Homo sapiens: one gene and its partner. The protein of the gene in region 1 interacts with the protein of each later gene in a pairwise test. Each region holds a gene or a part of one and is shown in the gene's direction. Other genes may lie near its edges.

The links. The genes of interacting proteins can lie anywhere in the genome.
Region 2: the proteins of ECPAS (region 1) and DGAT2L6 interact in binary tests that used the Homo sapiens proteins (3 or more experiments, as listed by UniProt).

The regions. Positions count from the first base shown.
Region 1 is NC_000009.12:111,362,241-111,369,570, reverse strand, and holds part of ECPAS (proteasome adapter and scaffold protein ECM29), read left to right. Parts: intron 1-397; coding exon 398-536; intron 537-2,943; coding exon 2,944-3,049; intron 3,050-3,243; coding exon 3,244-3,332; intron 3,333-5,911; coding exon 5,912-5,983; intron 5,984-6,272; coding exon of another isoform or gene 6,273-6,283; exon of another isoform or gene 6,284-7,330. UniProt on the Homo sapiens protein: Adapter/scaffolding protein that binds to the 26S proteasome, motor proteins and other compartment specific proteins. May couple the proteasome to different compartments including endosome, endoplasmic reticulum and centrosome.
Region 2 is NC_000023.11:70,173,088-70,180,722, forward strand, and holds the start of DGAT2L6 (diacylglycerol O-acyltransferase 2-like protein 6), read left to right. Parts: upstream 1-4,395; 5' UTR 4,396-4,495; coding exon 4,496-4,580; intron 4,581-7,635. UniProt on the Homo sapiens protein: Diglyceride acyltransferase that uses fatty acyl-CoA as substrate. Particularly active with oleate as a substrate. Has no wax synthase activity to produce wax esters.

The DNA.
Region 1 (7,330 bases):
TAAGTTGATTACATCACTAGCAAGCTGGACCAGTTGCTTCTCTTAGCCTCTGTTTCTCTATCAAGAAAGAGTTTGGATTTAGATCATTACTGAGTTTCTTCCATCTTTAAAATCTGATTCTAATGCAAGTCTTTTCATGTTATGCTCAAAAGACTACATATGCAGTATTTTTTAGCTTTTGTTTACAGATGCCTGTAAAGTATTGCCTAAATTTATTAGAGATACAGTATTCTGGTTATAAATTCTTGTTGTAAATAGGGAAACTTATGGTAGAGAATTTATCATTTAACTCTTGGTTAATATCTCCTGCCTTGGTTGGTACCCTGATAGCTTTAATAGTATACCTGTAACTTTGAAGAAGAAAATATTACATTTTCTTTTCTTTGATATATCCTAGAACTCACTTGAAAGCAGTGGGGTCCGGACAACCAAAAATGAAGAGGAGAATGAAAAGGAAAAGGAGCTCCAGCTGGAATATCTGCTGGGTGCCTTTGAAAGCCTGGGCAAAGCCTGGCCGCGAAACGCGGAGACCCAACGTAAGCACCAGAAACTGCATTTGAAGTGCTGTAACCAGAGGTTACTTAATGAGAGCGAAGAATTTTCTCTATGACAAATTATAGTTATTGTTTCTTATCGAGCCTGATTGATTAATAATGAGAATTATCCAGTGAAAGTTTTTTGTCTACATGAGTCTGTGATCTCACTGATCATTGTACCGCTGTAGCTAGGGCTGCTGTAAGAAAGTATCACAGACTGGGTGGCTTAGCAGAAATTTATTTTCTCACAATTCTGGAGGATAGAAGTCTGAGATTTCGAGATCAAGGCGTCAGCAGGGTTAGTTTCTCCTGAGACCTCTCTCCTTGGCTTGGGAATGGCTGTCTTCTCCCTGTGTCTTCACGTGGTCTTTGGTGTCTCTGTGCCCTAATCACCTCTTCCTATAAGGACACCAGGCACGCTGGATTAGGGCCCACTCATATGACCTCTTTAAAGGCTCTGTCTTCTATTTAATAATAATACAGTCAAATTCTGAGGTACTGGGGGATAGTATTTTAACATACGAATTTTGGGGGCACAGTTCCACCTATAATAACCATGATACATTTTATGCAGATAGTTTGATAGACGAGTTCTACTGATCTTCTTGATGATCATAGCTCTATTCAGAGGAATGCACAAAGTTTATTAGCAGGGTCTCTTTATCCTGAAATGAATGGTCTTGTTACCAAGTGTTCAGTAAGCAACTGAAATCCCTGTTTCAGTGAAAAACTCATTACTATTTGGACAATTTTCAGAACTGGACATGTATTTCCCAAAGATTAAATGAACAGTAAACCTCTATTATTGGATGAGGTTGCAGTTAGTTTGGAGTCCCCTGACAGGGCCTTAACCTTGGGATGATACTACCCTTTACACTTGATCTTAGCCAAAAGGCCAAGAAGTGATGATGCTACCCTTTAAGCTTGCCTTGTGTTGGGTCCTACAGTGCATCCTGCTGAAGATCTTAGTATTCGTTTTTTTTTTGTTTGTTTTTTTTTTGAGACAGGGTCTTGCTTTGTTGCCCAGGCTGGAGTGCAGTGGTGCAGTTCTTGCAGCCTTTACCTCCTGGGCTCAAGTGATCTTCCTGCCTCAGCCTCCCAAGTATTTGGGTCTACAAGTGCATGCCACGACACCCAGCAAATTTTTTTTGAAGAGGTGAGGTCTTGCTATGTTGCCCAGGTTGGTCTCAAACTCCTGGGCTCAAGTGATCCTCCCACTTTGGCCTCCCTCTCAAAGTGCTGGGATTATAGGTATGAGCCTCCATGCCCAGCGACAATATTATTGAATGTTATAAAAAGTACTGTTGATTATTTGTGATTGGATATGTCTAGAATCAGTTAAGGTTCTCTTTGAGCCCTGTCATCCTTTGTGTGAACTTATATATTTGCTATGTTTATAGGAAGGGTTTCCCAGAAGATACAAATTTGCAGGTGGTTTTATTTCTTAATATTATGTTATAGACTGCCATGGAAGTCCACTAATATGATGCCATAAAGAGTATTAACTTTTCCTTGATAGGTAGAGAAAGCTAAAGTAGGGAATTATATGAGAAAGATGATACAAACATAAAGCAGTTTATTTTAATATAAGACATAGAAGGTTGTTAATAGAAATGTGCATTTATTGAGAACCAAGGCCTTTTCTTTAGGAACTTAACTGTTACACATTGGCTTCTCATATATATCTACAATTTCTGGGTTTTGTTTCTTTAAAACAGAGAAAGAAATTTCAAGCTCTTATGAGACAATCCTAGTGCAGAATTCTAGATTTTTTATTGCCTCCCCCCATTTTTACATTTGTTTGAGCCCTACTAAATCCTACAGTAATTAAAAATAACTTCGTTGTTGAGTTTTCTGCTGATTCATCAGTTGGCATAATATTAATTATATAGTTATAATTACAGTTGCAGTTGGCATAACAGGTTTATAATAAAGCACTGTTGACTCTTGGTAAACCTGCAATTTGCAGAAGCTTGTGAGCATCTAGAGAGGAGCTTCTGGCCTCCAGAGTTCTTTCTGTGGCTGTCATTCAGGGAGTTTTGAGGGGCAAAGGGAGTGTGGTTAAAGTGCTTTCTCAGTTCCATGGAGAACCATATGCCTTGAAAGTGAATATTTGTGAACAATTATATTGCACCTTTGTGGGGGCAGTTTCTGATCAAGGAAATTTGTTTGGGGATTGAGTACAAAGTCATGCTGAAGTTTTTGGGGAAATTTCAATGGCTTTAATTAAAAGTATTTATTGTTTTATTTCTCTTTTTCCTGCTTTTCTCTCTCTTATCCTCCCCACCTTCTCTCTTTCTCTTTCCCTCTTCCTTTCTCTTGCTCTCTCTGCCTGTCCCTCATTTATTCCATCTCTTGTTCTTTTATACTGTCTCCTGCTCTGTCCCACCTTGTCTTTTTTTCCCAGGTTGTTATCGTCAGGAGCTGTGCAAACTGATGTGTGAACGGCTAAAACTCAGCACGTGGAAAGTGCAGCTAGGAGTCCTGCAATCAATGAATGCCTTTTTTCAGGGGTAAATTGCTTCATGGCTCAGTTTTTTATTTTGTTCCTCCCCGCAGCATTTTATGTATAATCAATGGAATTTTTATACATTTAAAAACTGGTAGCTAAAGTGACAGTGATACATACAGATAGAAATTGTGACAGGAAAGTTTTAGACTGTTTCTTAATAATTGGCATTTGTACCTTGCTTTCTGATTTGTATAGGTTAATGCTTTTGGAAGAAGAACATGCCGATCCTGAGGCTTTGGCTGAAATTCTGCTTGAAACTTGTAAATCAATCACATATTCTTTAGGTGAGTGTAGTAAACTAAAACTGATGAGGGAGTCCTAATTTTAAAGCTAAGGAGCTGAGCTTCAAATATTTCCTACTTTGTCTTAGGAACTAAATTTCTGAAATAGCTACTGGACTCTGCTACTTATTATACTCCATGTGTACCCCTTAACTGGAATATTTAAATCTGGAACTATAACAGGATTTTAGCATCTAGTTTAGAAAAACCTTCGTGACAAGTATTTTTACAAAATTGTTACTTGAAAGTAATTTCAAACTTACAGAATGGTTGCAACGACAGTACATGTAATACTCTGCAATATGTATACACTTTATGCAGAATCATTTGTTAACATTTTGTGCCATTTGCTTTGTCATTTGGACTTCTATATACATGTTTTTCTCCTGAACCATTTGAAAGTATGTTGCTTACTTCAGGCCCCCTTGTTCCTCAATTATTTAGTGTGCCACGGTACAGTTGTCAACTTTAGGTAGTAAACATGGATGCAGTTTTTTAAATCAAATGTTTATCGTTCATATTCTAGTTTGTTCAGTTGATTCGGTAATGTTCTTTATTTTTATTTTTATTTTTTTTGAGTTGGAGTCTCGCTCTGTCACTCAGGTTGGAGTGCAGTGGTGTGATCTCAGCTCATTGCAACCTCTACCTTCCAGGTTCAAGCAGTCCTCCTGCCTCAGTCTCCCAAGTAGCTGGGATTACAAGTGTGTACTGTCACGCCCAGCTGATTTTTGTATTTTTGTAGAGACAGGGCTTCACGAAGTTGGCCAGGCTGGTCTCAAAACTCCTGAGCTCAAGCAGTCCACCTGCCTTGGCCTCCCAAAGTACTGGAGTTATAGGCATGAGCCACCACACCCAGCCAGTAATGTTCTTTATAGGATTTTTTCCCCCTCCCCTCCATTAGGGAATCCAGTCCAGGTGATGATGATGATGATGATGATGATGATGATGATGATAATGGTTATTATTATTTTTGAGACAGGGTCTTGCTCTGTCACCCAGGCTGGAGTGCAGTGGCGTGATCTTGGCTCACTGCAACTCTGCCTTCTGGGTTTAAGTGATTCTCCTGCCTCAGTTTCCCAAGTAACTGGAATTACAGGTGTGTGCCATCATGCCTGGCTAATTTTTGTATTTTTAGTAGAGACGGGGTTTCACCATGTTGGCTAGGCTGGTCTTGAACTCCTGACCTCAAGTGATCTGCCCGCCTTGGCCTCCAGGATTATTTATTGAATTTTATTGTCATATATTTTTAGTCTCCTTCAATCTGGAATACTTCGTCAGCCTTTCTTTGTCTTAGGACATTGACAATTTTGAAGAATAAAGTCCCCCCGACTTCCCTTTTTGAAAAAACAGAATGTTTCTCATTTGGTGTTTGATGTTTTCTCATGATTATATCCAGGTTGTGAATTCCCAGTTGGGATACATACATAAGTGATGTGTCCTCACATTAAGAGGCACACAGTGTCCATCTGTCATCATTTGTGATGTTAATTTTGATTACCTGGTCAAGGTACTATCAGTTTTTCTCTACTGGATAGTTACTATGTTTTCTTTTTGTGTCTAATAAGTAGCCTGTGGGAACAGATCTTAAGATCATTCAAGTAATTTGTTTCTCTTCTTTAAAATTTCTTCTCTATATTTAGCATGCATTGATGATTCTTCCCTGAACCAATTTTTACTAAGATGATTTTGCAACTCTAGCACTTTGTCCACATTCACCATTTGATAGTTGGAATTCTGTTGTAAGCAAGATTCTTCTCTTCTGCCCATGTTTTTATTTATCTGTTACTGGCATTGATTCATGGAATCTTTCCCCCTTCAAATGGTTTATAATTTAATTTTTTAAATCTAATTCGTTATTCCAGTTGTCCCAGATTTGGCCAGTGGAAGCCCTTTCAAGCTGCCTCCTGTGTCCTTTTGACAGGTCACCGTCACTCTTTGTAGCACTTTTGTACTTTGTAGCATAACAAGATGATAAGGCCCATCTCATGCCTACCCTGCTTTGGGCTTGGTTGTGTGTTGATTTTTTTGGTAGACAATTTCACCATGAACCAGACGCCGTGTCAAAGAGTGGATGCCAAGGAAGCATGTTTCATTCGCAGTTGTTGGCAGCAGCATCCTTTTATGGATAAAGAACAGGCAGCCAACAGACCTCTCTTTGCTGAGTTCCAGGTGTCCCTGATCGGCTTAAACACTGGGTCATATAATGTTCTTTGGTAAAATGAGGAGGGTCATGTAGACCTAAGGATCGTTCTTATCCGTGATACGAAGATGATTTTGTGTTTGAGATAGTTTTTTCATCTCCCACTTCTAAAATGGATCATTTAAATATTGCCATTTGTTGTGGTGATTGGTATACTTGGCTGACAGGTTTTTGTTTTTCCAAAGTAAAGACTGTGGACATTAGCACACATTTCAAGTATTTGATACTTAGCAAAGGGAAGCTTCCTTTAAAAAAAAAAAATCAGATATACCCTTCCCTAGAGTTGTAATTTCTGGACATCTTTCTTTCAGCAACACAAATTTAATCTTGGAGGTTGTGTTTTTCAGGCAGGCCATATGAACTGTATGATATTTCTTTTTAGAAAATAAGACCTACTCATCTGTGAGAACAGAAGCTTTATCTGTGATAGAATTGCTGCTTAAAAAACTTGAAGGTAAGTTGTTGTTAGTTCTGACTGGGGGACCATAAAGCCATGTGGCATATGTTTTAGAAATTTTTTGTTTCGTTTTTGCTTATACTCTTAAGCATATACTCTGAAATACAAATCAGTATGTATGCACATGCAAGAAGAATGGACAAAGCCAAAACTATTAAATTTTACTAAATATTTAAATTTGATACACTTTTATATATTTTTAATATATTATTAAGCTATAGTTGTCTTAAAGTAATAAAGTTTTTGTTTTCATCGTGAATCCTGATTTAATCTTGGTTAATTACAGGAATTGGTTGACAGTGGCATGTGTACATGTAAATAAGCAGAACGACACACTGAAAAGTGGAGTTGGAAAAACATTTTTAACAGTTATCTACCTGAGTCATCAAATCTGACAGTAGCAATTTTCTTAATCCTATTTCTTCTCCCCTAACCTCTTTTTCTTCTAATGGTCTATCAGTGGGTGGGGTGGGGGGGAACTGTTAGCATTTTCTCCAGTGGTGTATCTGTTACTGACTTCAGAAGGAGGACCCTCTTCTTTTTTCTCTCTCTCTCTCAAATTGTTTTCACGGATTAAGAATGTAGAAGATGGAAACGTTTTTCCTGCAACCTTGTGTATTTGCTCTTTCTACTTCTCTATCTTTGCTTAGCAATTAAAACACCTCTCTTAGGGCTCCATCAAACAGAACTTTTAGACTGAGTAACGCTAAACATCTCCTAATCCCTTTTTTCCTTGTTGAGATAAAAGAGCTAGGCACTTAGTCGTATTACCGAATTCTCAGTTTGCCAGATATGTACTAATATAGTCCAGATGAGGAAAATAAGGCTGAAGGCAAGCTAAACTTGCCTGAAGCCACATTGCTAGGAAGTGACAGAACCTTGTAAACAAGATTTAAGATTTGATATACTTTCTTATTTTCTAAAAATTTCAATGTGCATGTAGTTCTCAGATGCTTTCCTCGAAGAAAAGGGAGTGTCATCTATTTATCTGACCTTGCAATTATGACATTTCTTAGAAGTTTTTTTTTTTTAACTGACCGTATCTTATGAAATGGTCTTGCGATGGTGTTGTTGAAATGACTTTTTTGCTGCAGTGTGCCTTGCCCTGATAATTCCTTCTTCCTACTATGCTTCAGTGTAATTATTTCTCTTACTCCCACTGATACTGGGGGAAGGAGAGGAAACTCCCTGATGTGCCTCTACGCTACTGTCAAGAATTAGGTTTTGAGACACATATTGACAGTATGTAATGATAATTATATACTGATCTGTTATCAAGAGGTTGCTTTGCATTTATTTGGGGGATAGGATATTTTTAAATTTTTTTCTTGCTTGTTCTATAAG
Region 2 (7,635 bases), on another chromosome or scaffold:
GAAGTCCAGCATCCTGGGAAACTCCTCATCCCAGGCAAACTGGGAGGGTTGGCCACCCCTCCCCCAAGACCCTGAACCAGGACACTGGAGGCCGCTGTTCCCTGGGGCCTTGCCTGCCATGAGAAGTGATCCAGTCACTACTGCTTCCAGGGGATTTTAAACGTCCCCTGTTCTGCCCTACCCTCCATCTCCACAGGCCCCTCGTCCCACCACCACTCCTGGGTCTACTTTCACTGGATTCTAGACCTAGAATCCAGTGAAACATAAATCTCTTTACGTATCTAGGCCTCCAGATACGTAAAGAGATTTGTGAGGAAATCAGCTCCACTTATCGCTTTCCAGCCTTCTCTTCTTCTACTCCCCTCCACCAACCTGAGACTCCTATCAAACTAAACCACCCCGTGTGCCAAAGCAAACCTCTGGTCTTTTGTGTATGCTGGGCCACTGTAGGAAATGTCATCCTCCCCACTTCTCAACCTGTTAGAGCACATTGCAAATACTCCCTCCCCACAGCTGAATAGGAGCGCTAGTGAACAGCTCCTGGATGGCAGACACTGCACGAGAAGCTTTTCAAACACTGCCACTACATCTCACAGCAAAGAAATAGGATGCATCCTTTTTACCAGATGAAGAAACCAAGACTCAAAGAGAGGAAGTGTCTGGTCCAAGGTCACACAGCTGCTAGTGTTCGTCTCTGTCTCCTTTGGAATTCTCTGATGGCCCCAATCCTTGTATTGATGACATATGCACTTCTTTCATTCCCTGTCCGTGCCCCCTGCCCCATAACCCAACACACATGCAATTGTAAACCTAGAACAATACCAGACTTAGAGTAAGTAGGGCCTCAAGAAAAATTTGGTGAATGAAGGGATTAGGTACACTCCTTCTAGAATACCTAGCCTGGTGCTTGGCATTAAATAGGTTCTCCATTGTTGTTGTTTAAGACAGGGTCTTGCTCTGTCATCCAGGCTGGAGTGCAGTGGTACATTCTTGGCTCACTGCAGTCTCGACCTTCTGGGCTCTAGAGATTCTTCCACCTCAGCCTCCAAAGTGAGTAGCTGGGACTACAGGTCTGCACCACCATGCTCAGCTAATTTTTGTATTTTTAGTAGACACAGGGTTTCACCATGTTGGCCAGGCTGGTCTCAAACTCCTGGACTCAAGTGATGCGCCCACCTCAGCCTCCCAAAGTGCTGGGATTACAGGCGTGAGCCACCATGCCTGGGCCTAATGTTTTCAATTGAGCTGAAATTGTAATACCTAACCATATAAGGGTATGACAGAGGGAGAAGATCAGAAGAAAACAAATTATGGCAAAACCTCAGCTATCCAAAGCTGTCTGGAAATGAGTCATTCCAAAGGCTGAGGGTGAACCTTTGAATCAGAGCTACCCTTTCTGAATCAGAGCTTTGAATCAGAGCTACCCCTTCACTTCCACCACCCTTTCTGAGCTCTCTGGTCCCGGTCCCCTTGATCTGTTTCCTTCCACTTTTCTCCTTTCTTTGTTTTTCTGTTGCTCCTTTGAAGTTTCTTTGGGGTCCAGCTTATCACAGCCCCGTTTGATGAGCTCACGGCCGTCTCTTGGACTGCCCGTCCAGGCCTCTCTCGCCTGATCCATTTCTCCTCACTGCAGCAGGCCCTCTTCCACAGACCCCTCCCTCACCTCCCAGGGCAGGCAGGTGCTTCTCTCGTCTGTGCAACCCACAGCACCCCATGCAGGTGTCTGCTTTTACACCTACTTCCAACACTGGACTGTGAGTTTCTTGAGGGTGGGAATCACGTCAACCTTCAATGTCTACAAATGAAATTGGCAGGCCCTTTGTGCTCCTTGGCAACCCTTCCTTCTTTATTGCTTACTCTGAGGCTGCCAAGCTTCTGCTTGTTGGTTGATGAATTGTAACTGGGAAATCACGAGTGCTGGATGTTCAGGGTTTATCTGCTAGCCTAATTATCTTCTTCTTGCTCTTTCTTTGTTCACTGATGTTTATGTTATACTTGTCCATTTGGCTCAAGAGAGCTCCAGCTGGGCCAGCGTGCTCTGTCTTTGGGAGCAAAGGGTGGCCAATCTGGGTCAGTCTATCTTGCCTGAGGCATCAAGAGACCTGGTCTCCCTCACAGGTTCAACAGACATTTACTTGAGTGCCTGCTCTGCACCAGACCCTGACCCAGATGTTAGGGAGACAGAGGTAGAAAACTGTCTGGCCCTGTCTGCCTCTGGTTCCTGCATCACCTTGAGCCCTTTCCAGATCTCCTCCATTCACCCATCTGAAAGTGGAGGGGAGCGGAGACCTGATCTGTAAGGGGCGTTGGAGCTCTTGATACTGTGGATCTCGTCTGGCCTGGGCACTCTAAGCCCCTCCATATCTCTGCTTTCCCTGAGCAGAGCCAAGCCTGCCTCTCTTACCTCCCTCCCTCCTCCCGTGCAAATTCTGAGCAGATACGCTCTGATACATCTCACCTTCTATGTGGTCAAGCAGCCCCAAGAAGCAGCTGGAGAACCCCAGCTAGCCCAAGGGGAAGAAAAGAAAGAGGAGGAAGAGGAAGGTGTCGCATGTCAGATGACCATCTAGTGCACACGGGGGAGTGAAAGCACACCCTGACATACCAGAAAAGTTCCCCAAGCTCAGCTCTGAAGAGTCACATTGGTCAGTCTAATGCGGGAAGCCCAAAGCAGAGTGGGGGTGGGGAGATGACAGAGTTCCAACAATCTCCCTGGAAAAGGGACCAATGCCCCCTTGCACTTATAGAACCCTTGATACCATTTTTGTATCTCATTTTCCCAGCAACCCCTTCAGTTATGTTTAACAGATGTTTTTGACTACCTTCTATATTCAAGGCCTTCTGCTGGGAGTACTGGGCTTTTCCTGTAGGACACATTGCAACTTCAAGTGTACAGACATTTTATCTTAATTTTATTTTATTATTTATTTATTTACTTATTTTGTAGAGATGGCATCTCGTTATGTTACCCAGGCCGGTCTGGAGCTTCTGGGCTCAAGTAACCCTCCCGCTTCAGCCTCCCAAAGTGCCAGGATTACAGGCATGAGCCACCGCACCCAGCCTAACATTTTTGTGATTTTTTTTTTGTTTTAATGTCTGTCTCCTCCACTAGACTGTAGACTCAAAGAAGGCAAGAATCATGTCTGTCTTCTTCCCTACTGAATCCTCAGCACCTAAACACAGTGCCTGGCAAACAGCAGTCACTCAATAGATAGTGACAGAAAAAATATATCCAACATGGTGAAACTCTCTCACTACTAAAAATACAAAAACTAGCTGGACGTGGTGGCGCACGCCAGTAGTCCCAGCTACGCAGGAGGATGAGGCAGGAGAATCACTTGAACCCAGAAGGCAGAGGTTGCAGTGATCCGAGATCACGCCACTGCACTCCAGCCTGGGCGACACAGTGAGACTCTGTCTGGAAAAAAAAAAACAAACGAAACAAACAAACAGAAAAAAAACGGTCTGAGACCTGGGAACAGTCTTCAGTTTTCCAAAGGCTATTACACAGAAGCAAGCCTCAGCCTGAAACATATGTTACTTGTTCAATATGTGTTACTTGAACTCAGTGAGTAGTAATGACAGGAAACGGTGCCAGGCTGTGTGCTAAGCACTTTATATTCATTCACTTATCTAATCCTCAGAACTACTCTAAGAAGTAGGTACTATTATAGTCCCACTTTTACAGATGGAGAAACTGGGGCATAGAGGTTCACCACCTTGTAAGTGACAGAGCTGAGATGTGAACCCCAGCTATCTGGCTCTAAAGTCTATGCCCCTAACCTATATTACATTCTAGCAATGAATGCTCAAACTGAGCTCTAGAGAGATGTAACATTTTCCAAAGGTGTCACAGGAAGAGCATGGCAGAGCTGGGACTGGGAGCCAGGTCTTCCTTCTGTGCAATGTTTCTCCCGCTCTATGATAAGGTATCTGGCCACTGAGGCAGGTCCCTTGGGACTAGAGGCACAAAGAGGGATCTGAAGAGTCTATTAACAGATATCCGGTGCAGAAAAACAGCCCCAGTGGGCTAGGTGACTCAGCAGAAGACAAGAGGAGACAAAGGGTAACCACTAGGGCAGGAACAAGTGTGGCTGCCAAGTCCCTTTTCTTAAGCAGGGAAAGGTAGTGGGGTGCTTTTCGGAGGTCCTATTTGAGGCCCAAGATACTCTCTTCCTGCGCTGATTTATCAAGAGTGCCCCTCCCCCACAGCTAGAGCCGCCCCAGGGCCATTTCTGCTTCATTACAATTGGGCACACGTGGAGAAAGGATACTACTGGGGAGATCAATTATATTGCCTGATCTGCAACCTGATGTGTGGGTAGGAAGTTGGGGCGGGGCAGTGGAGGAAAAGTTTGGTCAAGCCTGACAAAACCCCAGCAGCTAATCTTACTCCACAGTAAGAGATTATAGCAAAGCATCTATAATCAACTCAGCTTAAGAAGTTTTGACCTTCTGGTTAGGCTTCTTGCCACAACAGAACAGCACCATAACCATGGCTTTCTTCTCCCGACTGAATCTCCAGGAGGGCCTCCAAACCTTCTTTGTTTTGCAATGGATCCCAGTCTATATATTTTTAGGTGAGTGAACCCCAAGGGCTGGAGAGCACATGGGGAACAAACCAAAAGAGTGGCCAATCTCCAGATGAGGAGGGTTCCAAAGAGATCATCTGGGTGATCTCCACCCTCTGGGAAGGATCTGGCTGGCACAAAGGCCAGGAGTGAGGCTGCAGCTGTTCTGGTTTAAAGATTACTCCAGGCCAGGCACGGTGGCTCAGGCCTATAATCCCAGCACTTTGGGAGGCCGAGGCAGGTGGATCACCTGAGGTCAGGAGTTTGAGACCAGCCTGGCCAACATTGTGAAATCTCGTCTCTACTGAAAAAAAAAAAAATACAAAAATTAGCCAGGCATGGTGGCATGCACTGGTAATCCCAGCTACTTGGGAGGCTGAGACAGGAGAATCACTTGAACCCGGGAGGTGGAGCTTGCAGTGAGCCAAGATCGTGCCACTGCACTCCAGCCTGGGTGACAGAGCAAGACTCCGTCTCAAGATGAAAAAAAAAAAAAAATCACTCCAGTCTTCTCAGGAGCTGTCCCCTATGAACTAGCTGAAAAGAGTCATATTCAGGGACAGGGCAGAAGTGGTGGTGGCTTACAGAGTTGGTGTTACTAGGTAGGTGTAGGGTGATTTTCTAGTCTATGGTTATGGTGAGACAATTCTGGAAAATCTGAGGGCTGCCTGAGTGACATCTCAGACAGAATTTTGAGAAAGAGCCAGTTGTTCTGTGGACTCACAGCACAGAAGTCAACAATGTTGGGCCTCTCCCACCCAAGGCTCTTCTGAGGCAGCTTTTTTTTGTTGTTGTTGAGATGAAGTTTCACTCTTGTCGCCCAGGCTGGAGTGCAAACGGCAAACGGGCTGACAGCTCCAAGATTTTCCCTGCCAGAAACCAGGGATTTGGGGGTGGTCAATTACAGGTGCAAGCTTGAAAACTGGATGAGGAGAAATAATGTCATCCTGAAGGATGAGACAGGTAGGAGACAGCTGGTTCCAACCCATGGGAGGCTATATGACCCTTAGAGCAGAGGCTCTCAACCAGGGTCCTATAGACCAAAAATTCAGGGTGGATGGGGGTTACTTTGAATTGGGATGAATAAAACTGCCTCTTTCTTTCCACTAACCTCTAACTGAAATGTAGTATTTCCTTCAATGATGAATGTAGGCAATAAACCACGAAGTGTTAGGAGTACCTGTGAGTGTCAGTAACAGACATCACAGAGATTTGCATTTCATATTATAGTTGTTGCAGGCATCTCGAAATTTCATTTATGTTCACGACTACTTCAAAATTCCAGTAGTTATTGGCACTGCTGTTAGATCTGGTTATTTAATGCATACATCAAGAAGCACATATGTTACTATATTATATTGTGGGTAATATTTTGATAACTGAATTTTAATATAATGGGTTTCCTTTGTAAATCTGCGTATTTTATTTTGTGCATTTAAACATATTATTCAGAGAAAGGGTCCATGGCTTCACCAGACTGCCAGAGGGGTCCACAGCCTTCTCAAAATGCAGACTTATTAAGCCTTATTAAAATCAAAACATGCTAAGCCCATTGATGGCTTGACTTTAGCTATATCGAGAGAAGAAAGTCATTTTGTTAGTAAACTTAGTTGTTTCTAGACTTTCATAGTTTCCTTTTGTTTTCCTTTGCATTTCCCCTAACTTCCTCAAAAAGACCCCTTTGATAAGTTCTGACCCTCAGCCAGGAAAGTGAGGAGCACAGGAATGTCCTAAGAGACTTGCTATTGGGGTGGCAGCAACCGTGTCAAATCCGGGTCCCAGAAAGAGTGGGCAGAGATGGGGCAGAGAGAGCAGGGGAAAGAGGTCAAGAGAGGATGAGCTATGTGAGCGGGTCCTTTTAGGTGTAGGGCCTGTCCCACCCAAGAATGCTCTTCTGAGGCAGCTTTTTTTTTTTTTTTTTTTTTTGAGATGGAGTTTCACTCTTGTCGCCCAGGCTGGAGTGCAATGGCAGGATCTTGGCTCACTGCTACCTCCGCCTCCCGAGTTCAAGCGATTCTCCTGCTTCAGCTTCCCGAGTAGCCGGGACTACAGGTGTGTGCCACCACGCACAGCTAATTTTTGTATTTTTAGTAGAGACGGGGTATCGCCATGTTAGCCAAGCTGTTCTCAAACTGCTGACCTCAGGTGATCCGCCGACCTAGGCCTCCCAAAGTGCTGGCTGGGATTACCGGCATGAGCCACCGCGCCGGGCCGAGGCAGTGTTTCTAATTAAAATGTACTCATTTTTCTGCCAGAAAATGATACTTTCTCATATATATTTTTCTCTATTTCATTTCCCCTCTCAAAGGACACTGTGTCCTGCTGGGTATAGGGTAGAGAGTGTATCAGACAACTGGATATGTGAGGGACCAAGAAGGTGAGGATTAGCCTCCAAGTAATGCCCCTTTACCCCCAAATCTCAACGGTTTCTAGTTGTCCCAGAAGAGCTGGAGGAGTGGAGTGGGGATGATACCTATGGGTCTTCAGTGGAAACACATAAGAATAAATGGGGCCAGGTGCGGTGGCTCACGCCTGTAATCCCAGCACTTTGGGAGGCCGAGGCGGGTGGATCACAAGATCAAGAGATCGAGACCATCTTGGCCAACATGATGAAACCCCATCTCTACTAAAAATAGAAAAATTAGCTGTGTGTGGTGGCGCGTGCCTGTAGTCCTAGCTACTCGGGAGGCTGAGGAAGGAGAATCACTTGAACCCGAGAGGCAGAGGTTGCAGTGAGCCAAGATTGCGCCACTGCACTCCAGCCTGGTGACAGAGCAAGACTCTGTCTCAAACAAAAAAAGTAAAAAATAAAAAATAAAAATAAAAATAAAGAATAAACGGGATTTTTTTTCACCTTCATTTTTAAAAGTTATTTTTATTGTGGTACAATACCTAGAACATAAAATTTACCGTTTTAACCATTTCTAAGTATGCTCTAAGTACATGTCATTAAGTACATTCACAATGCATGGCCACCATCCATCTCCAGAATTTTATCTTCCCAAACTGAAACTCTGTATCCATTACACAATAACTCCCTAATTCCCCCTCCCTCCAGCCCCTG